2 separate regions of the Homo sapiens genome follow, and region 1 is linked to region 2. Evidence: fine-mapped expression QTL. A gene starts in region 2. The other region holds a variant in brackets. All regions are shown on one strand. Distances are between the middles of the regions. Region 1 has its middle 19 kb from the start of NLRP12. Region 2 holds the start of CACNG8 (calcium voltage-gated channel auxiliary subunit gamma 8).

Region 1 (5,372 bases), 120 kb after region 2:
GCCGTGATGGTGGGTGCCTGTGGTCCCAGCTACTCGGGAGGCTGAGGCAGGAGAATCGCCAAACCTGGCAGGTGGAGGTTGCAGTGAGCCAAGATCGCGCCATTGCACTCCAGCCTGGGCAAAAGAGCAGGACTCCTTCTCCACAAAAAGAAGAAAGAGAGAAAGAAGGGAGGGAGGGAGGGAAGGAAGGTAGGAAGGAAGGAAGGAAGGAAAGGAGGGAGGGGCTGGGCACCGTGGCTCATGCCTATAATCCCAGCACTTTGGGAGGCCGAGGCGGGGCGGATCACCTGAGGTCAGGAGTTCGAGACCAGCCTGGCCAACATGGCGAAACCCCATCTCTACTAAAAATACAAAAATTAGCTGGGCGTGGTGGTGGGCGCCTGTAATCCCAGCTACTCAGGAGTCTGAGGCAGAAGAATCTCTTGAACCCGGGAGGTGGAGGTTGCAGTGAGCCGAGATCGCACCATTGCACTCCAGCCCAGGCGTCAGGGCAAGACTCCATCTCAAATAAAGAAGAAGAAAATGAAACTTTATATTGATAACCTGGATTTGCCTCATTCTTCAGTTTCTTAACTCCATGTGTATTTGGGGGCTGCTTTGCACATAGGGCCCTTTCACAGGAGGGGAAGGCTTGTTACACAGCAAAAGGTATTGGGCGCACTCCTGCGCAGGTTTCCTCTCCGCTCTGCTTCCCCTTTGTGGACCGAAACTGATGACAATACACACCTCGTGGGTTGTTGAGTGATTACGTAACTTAATGCATGTAAAGGGCTCAGATCATTGCCTGACACACAGTACGTGGTGCTCAGTAAATGTTGGTTGTTGTGGTTATATGCAATTATTCCAAAATCTGAAAAATCAGAAATCCGAAACGCTTCTGGCCCCAAGCATTTTGGATAAAGGATACTCAACTCTTATTTATATACTAAAATACTATTTACTTCATCCTTTCCTTAAAATACATATATTTCAGCCTGGGCAACATAGTAAGACCCCGTCTCTACAAAAAGATACAAAGATTAGTTGGGCATAGTGGTGTGCACCTGTAATTCCAGCCAGCTGGGGGGTTGAAGTGGGAGGATTGCTTGAACCTGGAAGGTTGAGGCTGCAGTGAACTGTGATCTTGCCACTGCCCTCCAGCCTGGACAACAGAGCAAGACCCTGTCTCAAAAACAAATAAATAAAAAACAAAAACCATATGTTTGCTTAAATTAAAAAAAAACACAAAAAACAAAACTTCGGCTGGGCACGGTGGCTCACACCTGTAATCCCAGCACTTTGGGAGGCCAAGGTGGGCAGATCACGAGGTCAGGAGATCGAGACCATCCTGAGTAACATGGTGAAACCCCGTCTCTTTTAACACACACACACACACACACACACACACACACACACACACACACACAAAAGCCAGGCGTGGTGGCGGGCACCTGTAGTCCCAGCTACTCGGGAGGCTGAGGCAAGAGAATGGTGTGAACCCAGGAGGCGGAGCTTGCAGTGACCCGAGATCATGCCACTGCACTCCAGCCTGGGTGACACAGCAAGACTCGGTCTCAAAAAAAACAAAACAAAACAAAACAAAAACCTTCAAGCAGCTATGACATAAGTGAGCACAGGTTTACTCATTAGTCTTTGTGTACGTATCAAAGAAAAACGTGAGCAAATATTTACATACCAAGTGTCCTGAAATTAGGATCAACTATATATTTATTCCATAACTTGTCATTGTAGAAGACATTATTTTTGTAGCATTTAGAGACTCATTTGAATAATTCAAATGATTATGAACTTGCAACCTGGAAACCATGACAGTTATGGACAGCTATGTTTTCTAGAATCTTTTTTTTTGTGTAAAATTCCCGATTAAACGGTGTAAATTATGTTTGCAAAAAGAAGGTGAATTTGCTGAACAAACGTATGATAATTAGCCATGGCTGTGACTTTGCCGATAGTTTTTGTTTTGTTTTGTTTTGTTTTGAGATGGAATCTCACTCTGTCACCCAGGCTGGAGTGCAGTGGCATGATCTGCAAGCTCACTGCAAGCTCTGCCTCCTAGGCTAATTTTTTGTATTTTTAGTGGAGACCGGGTTTCACTGTGTTAGCCAGGATGGTCTCGATCTCCTGACCTCGTGATCCGCCCATCTCAGCCTCCCAAAGTGCTGGGATTACAGGTATGAGCCACCACACCCGGCCTTTGCCGATAGAGTTTTAAGTATCTCAACCTGCACGGAAGACTGCATAGATTATTTTAGAATCTGGAACAAATAAAAAGTCATTCCTCTTTGCAAAGTTATTCTGTGCATAAAATAAATAAATGACTCTAACAGATTAAGTCTAGAACAGTGGTTCTCAACGGAGGGCAATTTTGCCTCTTGTTTTAAGATGTAGGGTCTTTTGGGGGGTGGGGTTGTATGTTTGTTTGTTTTTTGAGACAGGGTCTAGCTCTGTCACCCAGGCTGGAGTACAGTGGCGCAATCTTTGCTCACTGCAACCTCTACCTCCCGGGTTCAAGCGATTCTCCTGCCTTGGCCTCCTGTATAGCTGGGATTACAGGCGCCTGCCACCACACCCGGCGAATTTTTGTATTTTTAGTAGAGCCGGGGTTTCACTATGTTGGCCAGACTGGTCTCGAACTCCTGACGTCAGGTGATACTCCTGCCTCGGCCTCCCAGAGTGCTGGGATTACAGGCGTGAGCCACTGCGCCTGGCAAAACGTAAGCTTTATTATTCAGTTATTGTGAGGCCAACAGATCAGGAGACAGTTGCCATTGATAAGACAGTTTGTGGCTGGACACGGTGGCTTTTGCCTGTAATCCCAGCACTTTAGGAGGCAGAGGCAGGTGGATCACCTGAGGTCAGCGGTTCGAGACCAGCCTGGCCAACATGGTGAAACCGCGTCTCTACTAAAAATACAAAAATCAGCTGGG[C/T]GCGGTGGCAGGTGCCTATAATCCCAGCTACTCGGGAGGCTGAGGCAGGAGAATCGCTGGAACCCGGGAGGCAGACGTTGCGGTGAGCCCAGATTTCGCCACTACACTCCAGCCTGGGCGACAGAGCGAGACTTTGTCTCAAAAAGGTAAGTAAATTAAATAAATAATAGAAAACATCTCTGCTATTTTTGTCAGAGTTGAATCACCCAAGTAGAATTACTGTAAGAATATTCATGCGTGAGACCATATTAATTTCTAAAACTGCCGGTTGACCTTCTGAACTGGCTTTACCCTCTGCTGGTCATCACTGGCTTTAACAAAGAAGAGGTTTTTTTCCCCCTAAGGGAACAATGGCATTCCTTTAACTTGCATTTCTTACTGATTTGTTATCAGAACTTGGCACTTGGCTGCGTGTCAATTTATGGCATTGTTCACTGAGACTATTCCTATTAAGTTTTACTTCCTCAGTTGACTCCGTGGTGAGTCATTACAAAGTTTAAAGGGAACGCGATTAGGTTTACTTCCCCTCGAACAGCCTGTCTTCTGCTCGCCCACCTGTGTCTCAGCGCCCTCTACTGGTGCCTAAAATCCTATCATAATTTAGTCCACAGGAAATAAAACAAAATCCTCTGCAGTCCCAGGCCAGCCCTAGCCGGGCCCTCCGAAACAGAGGTCAGAGGTCAGTCTAGAAAACTCAGAAAGGGGCGCTTTTCATTGTTCCATATGAAAATCATTCCAATTTTGATTTTCACCATCCACGGAAGCCTCAATTTAAAAAAAAAAGTATCTTGCATGAATTGACTGCTGGGCAATCAGTCCTAAGATTGAAATTGTTTGTGATTTTCAGTTACCGGTTAATGACTAGACAATTAGGCAGAAAGAAATCACTTGCCCAGGCCGGGTGCGGTGGCTCACGCCTGTAATCCCAGCACTTTGGGAGGCCGAGGAGGGCGGATCAGCTGAGGTTGGGAGTTCAAGACCAACCTGGCCAACATGGTGAAACCCCGTCTCTACTAAAAATACAAAAAAATTAGCCAGGCATGGTGGCGGGCGCCTGTAATCCCAGCTACTCGGGAGGCTGAAGCAGGAGAATTGCTTGAACCCGGGAGGCAGAGGTTGCAGTGAGCTGAGATCATGCCACTGCACTCCAGTCTGGGCAACAGAGCAAGACTAGGTCTTAAAAACAAAAAGAGAGAGAAAATAAATCACATGCGCCAGGCAGAGCTGTGTAACCCAAGCCTCAATTTGCTCAGGTGTAAAAGATGCATTCCACCTTCCAAGAATGTTCATTAATTTTCTTAAGTACAGGCATATGTGGAGCCCAAGGTCGTTACAGCTAACTCTGGTCCCCTTAGTTTTATATACTTTGACCAGTAGGAGTGTTCCTAAAACTAGCTAGATAGGAGAGTTGTTTTATAGAAATTATATCTCTTCTTGGCAATAAAACTAGGGTACCTTCTATCTGAAGCCTGAATTGAAAACGTAATACCAATTTGGACCAAGCACAGTTGCTCACGCCTGTAATCTCAGCACTTTGGGAGGCCAAGGAGGGAGGATTGCTTGAGCCCGGGAGTTTGAGACCAGCCTGGGCAACATAGTGAAACCTCATCTCTACTAAAAATTAAAAAAAGAAATTAGCCAGATGTGCTGGTACGTGCCTGAAACCCCAGCTACTCAGGAGACTGAGGCAGGAGGATGGCTGGAGCCCAGGAGTTTTGAGGTTTCAGTGAGTCATGATTGCACCACTGTACTCCAGCCTGGGTGACAGAGTGAGATCATGTCTCAAAAAAAAAAAAAAAAACAACTAAGAATAAAAAAAATAAAAACGCAAAACATGGTACCATTTTAGTTTTTCTTTCTTGTTTTTTTTTTTTTTTTTTTTGAGATGTTGTCTTGCTCTGTCGTCCAGGCTGGAGTGCAATGGCACAATCTCGGCTCCCTGCAACCTCTGCCTCCCAGGTTAAAGGGATTCTCCTGCCTCATCCTCCCGAGTAGCTAGGATTGCAGGCATGCACCACCAAGCCCAGCTGATTTTTGTATTTTTAGTAGAGACGGGGTTTCACCATGTTGGCCAGGCTGGGCTCGAACTCCTGACCTCAGGTGATCTGCCCAACTCGGCCTCTCAAAGTGCTGGGATTAGAGGCTTGAGCCACCGCTCCCGGCCTGTTCTGGACTTTTTAAAAGCATTTTAATTAATTTAAAGTATTAATTTAGGCCAGGCACGGTGGTTTACGCCTGTAATCCCAGCACTTTGGAAGGCTGAGGCGGGCGGATCACCTGAGGTCAGGAGTTCGAGACCAGCCTGACCAGCATGGCAAAACCCCATCTCTACTAAAAATGCACAACAAATTAGCCAGGCATGGTGACGCACACCTGTAATCCCAGCTACTCAGAAGGCTGAGGCAGGAGAATCGCTAGATTCCGGGAGGCAGAGATTGCAGTGAG
Region 2 (5,300 bases):
TTTTCCACTGCTGCAGCCCCAGAATCCAGAACAATGCCTGGCACATAATATAAACTCAATAAAAATGGGACGTTGAATGAACGAATGAATGAATGAATGACATCCCTACTAGATGCCACGTGCTGTCCTAGGGCTCCCATGATGGGAGCCCTCACACTTGGCTCTATGCCTGGTACTTGGTCAGACCAGTGAATGGACATGAACTCAAACTTCCACAGGAGAGGCAAAGAACATCACGAGAGCCGTGGGAGGAATGGGAGGCGAGACGGAGCAGATGGAGGTGACTGTGGGGAAGTGGAGACCCCCCAGCTGCTGCTCAGATCCGGCCCATCGTGGTCAGGGTAGAACACAGGCTTGTGCTAGATCTTCCGCCAGCTCAGAAGAAGCCGGAAATCAGAACTACAATGGGAAGCCTCCCTATTTTTAACTGTTGGCAATGGATTCAGATTTTGCTTTCAGTTTTAAACACTTTGTACACTAGACAGAGCGCATCTGTGAATCCCATCCATGAGATTCGAGTTCTGCTCTTGGCTCGGCCCCTTTCTCAGCTAGGTGACCTTGGGCAAGTGACTTCACTTCTCTGAGCCTCAGTTTACCCATCCCCAACAGCGAGGTGGTGCCCACCTCATAGGATTAAACGAGATAACGTTCCCGGCTTGTCGTGAACACTCAGCAAAACAGAGGAAGAAGGGGCAGAGGAAATAGAGGGGGATGAAAAAGAGAAGCAAGAGATTTCAATCTTTTGGCCGAAGGGGGCATCAGGATGGCTGGTTCCACTCCTTCACGTTGCAGACAAGGGCTGTGAGGCTGGGGTGCAGGAGGGAAGACAGTGGTCACACAGCAGGGCAGATATGCAGCAGAACTGGCACCCAAGACTCCTGCTTCCCAGCCCCGCAGCTACTTGATACTCAGGAAAGAAATACTGATGCTAAGAGTGGGAGAGAGAAGGGGTTGGCACAGCAGAGGGCAGGAGTCTTGGAGAAGTGGGGAAGTCGAGAGCCAGGGAGCCGAGCTAGGAGAGAAGCTGTGAGAGGGAGAACAGGACAGAGGAAAAGAACCAAGTCGAAGATCCGAGGAGGTAGCAGGGGCAGGAGCGAGAAGCCTTAACGTGAAGGCCTGAGGCATCGAGTCAGGAAGACGTCGAAGGAGGCATGAGTGGAGGAAGAGGAAGTGGAGTCCACTAAAGGAAAAAGGAGGAAAGGACCAGGATGGGAGGTTGGAGGGCACCCTGGTGGGAGAGACATGGGTGGGGGCACTGATGGGAAGAGAAAGATGAACAGGAGGAGAAGCACAAGGCAGAAAAGAGAGAAAGTCATGAGTGAGGGCGAGTTAAGGCACGAAGTTTCAGGGGAGCAGCAGCCAAAGAGAAGGGGAAAGAGACAGACCGGAAGACTGGGCCGTGAAAGGGGGCGGGAGAGGCAGGGGACTTCAGAGGACTGGGGGGGAAATGTCGGGAGAGAGAAGATGTCACGGGGCACGAGGGAGAGGAAATGAAGGGGCAGGTGGAGCGGAGGAGCAGGGTCAAGATGAACTGACGGGAAAGAGGGAGAAAGAGGCTGCTGGGTGCAGTGGCTCATGCCCTTCATCCCAGCACTTTGGAGGCCAAGGCAGGAGGATCTCTTGAGCTCAGGAGCTCGAGACCAGCCTGGGCAACAGGAGACCTCATCTCTACAAATAATAAAAAAAATTAGCTGGGCACAGTGGCTCATGCCTGTGGTCCCAGCTACTCAGGAGGCAGAGGTGGGAGGATGGCTTGAGCCTAGGGATTCGAGGCTGCAGTGAGCTGTGATTGTGCCACCGTACTCCAGCCTGGGCGACAGAGTGAGACCTTGTCAAAAAAAAAAAAAAAAAGAGAAAAGGCACAGGGCAGAGTGGAAGAAATGAAACAGGAGGAGCCCCAGGTACTGGAGAGAGGGAAGATGCAGGGGTGTGATGGGGCAGCGCAGGAGACACGGACTAGGGAAAGATAGGATAAGGGGGTTCAGCGGAGAGGCAGAGGGGCTGCAGAGGGAGCATGCCGAGGAATTCCGCAGGGTGCCAGGACGCAGGGAGGAGTGGGAAGGAGGGGAGAGGAGGTCAGGGGCGCGAGTGGGAAGGCGCAGAAGCCCCTCTGGCAGAGGAGGAGGGGTGCCCAAGGGGGCCCCAGGATCAGGGACAGGCAGCCCCGGGAGGCTCAGGGTCTCTCGGAGGGGAGCGGCGGGGGCTGCGGGGAGGGCCGCCCGCACCCTACCTTCCAGGCAGCAGATCCTCCAGAGGCCCGAGTGCGTGAGGCCGCCGGGGTCCTTCTTCTCCGAGGCGCCGCCGCCCCCGCGGTGGGGGGTCCCGTCGTCGCCGCCGGCCGTGAGGTTGGTGGTGTTGCAGATGAGGGCGCGCGTGTAGAGCCAGTAGTCAGTGCTGATGGCGATGGTCATGAGGCCGAAGGCGGCGAAGGCGCCCACCGTCGTCAGCAGCACCTGCACCCCCTTCTCGCACCAGAGGCCCCGCTCTTCGTTCCAGCGCTTCAGCGACTCCAGTTTGACCACGGGCAGCCGGGGGGCCGTGGGCCACCACCGGGGCAGCGGGGGCGGGGCCGTGCCGGCGGCTGGGGGGGGGTTCACAGCGCAGGCAGAAGCGGGGGGCCCGGGGCCGGCGGGGCTGGGGAGGGGGGCGGCGAGGAGGAGGCTGCGGCCGGGGAGGGGGTCAGAGCGCGGCCATGGTCGGCGGCTGGTGGAGGGCAAGGAGCGAGATCTCGCATTAGAGGAGAAGAAGGCACAGGTACCTCCCCCAGTCCCCGCCCCCCCCCCCCCAAAATCCCTGCCTCAGCTCCAGAAACTCCTTCCACTCGGGGCTCCACTGCTTCTCTTTCTCAAAAATAATAATAATAATAATAATAATAATAATAATTAATAAATAAGATGAAATCTCTCTCCACTCTTGTCTTCTGCCCAAGAAAGTCATCCCACCATCCCACTAACCCCACTCGGAGGAGTCCCCACCACCGCTAATAATTAATAAATAAGATGAAATCTCTCTCCACTCCTGTCTTCTGCCCAAGAAAGTCGTCCCACCATCCCACTAACCCCACTCGGAGGAGTCCCCACCACCGCTAATAATTAATAAATAAGATGAAATCTCTCTCCACTCCTGTCTTCTGCCCAAGAAAGTCGTCCCACCATCCCACTAACCCCACTCGGAGGAGTCCCCACCACCGCTAATAATTAATAAATAAGATGAAATCTCTCTCCACTCCTGTCTTCTGCCCAAGAAAGTCGTCCCACCATCCCACTAACCCCACTCGGAGGAGTCCCCACCACCGCTCACACTCACAGCCCTCGCCCCTAGCCCGCGCCGCCTCCGCCCCAGGGGGCTCCACGATCCTCATCGCATGGGAAGCCACCCCCCGCCATGATGCCAAGCCCCACGCCGCCGCCTCCTCCCCAGGAGCCCCCGTCGCGTTCTTCCTTCCTTAGCGACCCCCGCCCCATCACCATGCGGCGCCCACCAGCTCTCCCCACTCTTCCCCTGCAAGCCCCACCTCTCCACCCGCTAGAACCCTTCCCTGTCAGCCCAACTTTTCCCTGAGCGTCTCCACAACTTAAGAAGCCCGAGTAGCACCACTTCCGTGGGAGTAACCTCCGCGAGCCCCCTCCGGTCTGGCTTTTGTCATTCCATCACTCCAAATGGTCCCCCACAGTTTCCTCTCCTTAGGAAAAAATAAATCTCTCAACCTCTCTTCAACTAAAAAGGAAAAATTAAAAGAAGAAGAAAAAGAAAAAGAAAATCCCAGCTGACCCTCACAGTTTGTGCAACTCGGAATCACCAGCCACCCTCAGTCAGCCTCCTCTCCCTGGAAGCCCCCTTCCTGCCTCGGGCAGCCTCCAACACACCTGGAAATCACCCGAGGACCTTAAAAATTCGGATGTTTGAGTCCCACCTGAGAAAGTCCGACATGGTTGGTCTGCAGTGTGGCCTGCGCATGTAAGTTTTTAAAAGCTCCCTGGGGAATTCTAATGCACCCAACATCAGACCCACTGGTTTGCAAGCTGCCCCCCCCCCGCCATCTCCAGCCCATTCCCTGTCACAGCCCCCACTGTCTCCCCACAAGCCACTCACTCCCCACCCCATACTATGCCTTTACTCCAGGAAAACCCCCACCCTCTCTTTTGCTTTAGAAGAGTTTTCTGAATCTTCCCACCCCGCCACCCCCCCCCCCACAACTTAAACGAACTCATATCATAACCATCGTTTTCTCCTCCATTAAGAAAAATTTCCTCCGTGAGTTCCACGGCATTTTCTACTCGCAAGAATGGCTTCCTCCAGACCCCAAATGTCTCTCCACTCAGGACCATTCCAATCTCTGCCCTGTACTCCCATAGCAGGGGGCACACTGTACCACCCACCCGCCCCTCTGCACTCACAGCAGCTCCCACTGCCTCCAAATCCCCTCCTCGTAGCCCTTCATCATCACACGGGATCTTCAGCACACTGTTTCCCCCAACTTGAGATCCCCCTAACTCACTTTGAAGCCCACTCTCTCTTCAATGTACCAGGAAGCATCCTCCCCAACTTCTCTCTCATCATATAGAATTCCCTTGACTCACTTCCTCTTGCTCCACCGCTATAGCTCCCAGGTTCTCCTCTGCCCCGGAAAATCCCCTCCGCAGGCCCCCACAGGCTTCCCTTCTTGGGAACGCCCCCCAGTACTCCCCTCTACGACTTCACCTGTACAGGAACACACACTGTAGCCCCTCATCTTCTTCCACATGCAGAAAGAGCCCCCCCAGTAGACTGTGTCCCTCTGAAAAATGTGATCCGCAAGACTACAACTCTCTTTTCAATTAGGAATACTTTCCCAGCCTGCACCCGCTGCCCCGTGGCTCCTTCATTTCTCTCTTCCACATTCTCCCCCGACCACCATGCCCCCAGCCCTGCCTGTCTCCCCCACCCCAACTGTCCTCTGGGGGATGTACTCCTTACTTGCTTCCACACTGCTTCTTCAACTTCTTCCCCCAAACCCACTATAGTTAAGAGCCTGGAAACCTTAGACGAAGAGGGGATTAAAAAAAAACAAAACAAAAACCAGAACCTAGGTCCCAGTACAGGGTGACCTTGGCCTCCTGATTGCTTGCCCGTCTCCACTGCCCCCCATCAGCTGGCCTCAGACTGGGGCTGCTCCGAGGAGGGGCTGTGGAAAAAGGTTGTCTATGGGGGGTGTCTCCATGGCAACTGGGCCTAGTGCCCCACACGTTGTGTTCCCTCCCCCACCTCAACTCCCGTCTGCCCACACACAGCCCTTCCTCAGGCCACAGTTCAGCAGCCCG

What was found. PIP is the estimated chance that this variant, and not a neighbour inherited with it, causes the effect. A credible set is the group of variants that fine-mapping cannot tell apart.
Region 1: its variant is the best candidate, but not a certain one, in a credible set for the expression of CACNG8 in lung (TOPMed, PIP 0.79).

Annotation. Positions count from the first base shown.
Region 1 is chr19:53,840,395-53,845,766 of GRCh38, reverse strand. No RefSeq gene overlaps it. Among named protein-coding and RNA genes, the nearest start is that of NLRP12, 19 kb to the right of the region's middle. RefSeq lists an enhancer at 4,673-5,372. The variant C/T (reference allele first, on the strand shown) is at 2,928.
Region 2 is chr19:53,960,356-53,965,655 of GRCh38, reverse strand. CACNG8 (calcium voltage-gated channel auxiliary subunit gamma 8) reads right to left here and starts at 2,719. Exons shown (of 4, transcript NM_031895.6): 1 at 2,231-2,719. The coding sequence starts at 2,513. RefSeq lists enhancers at 3,358-3,878, 4,689-5,300.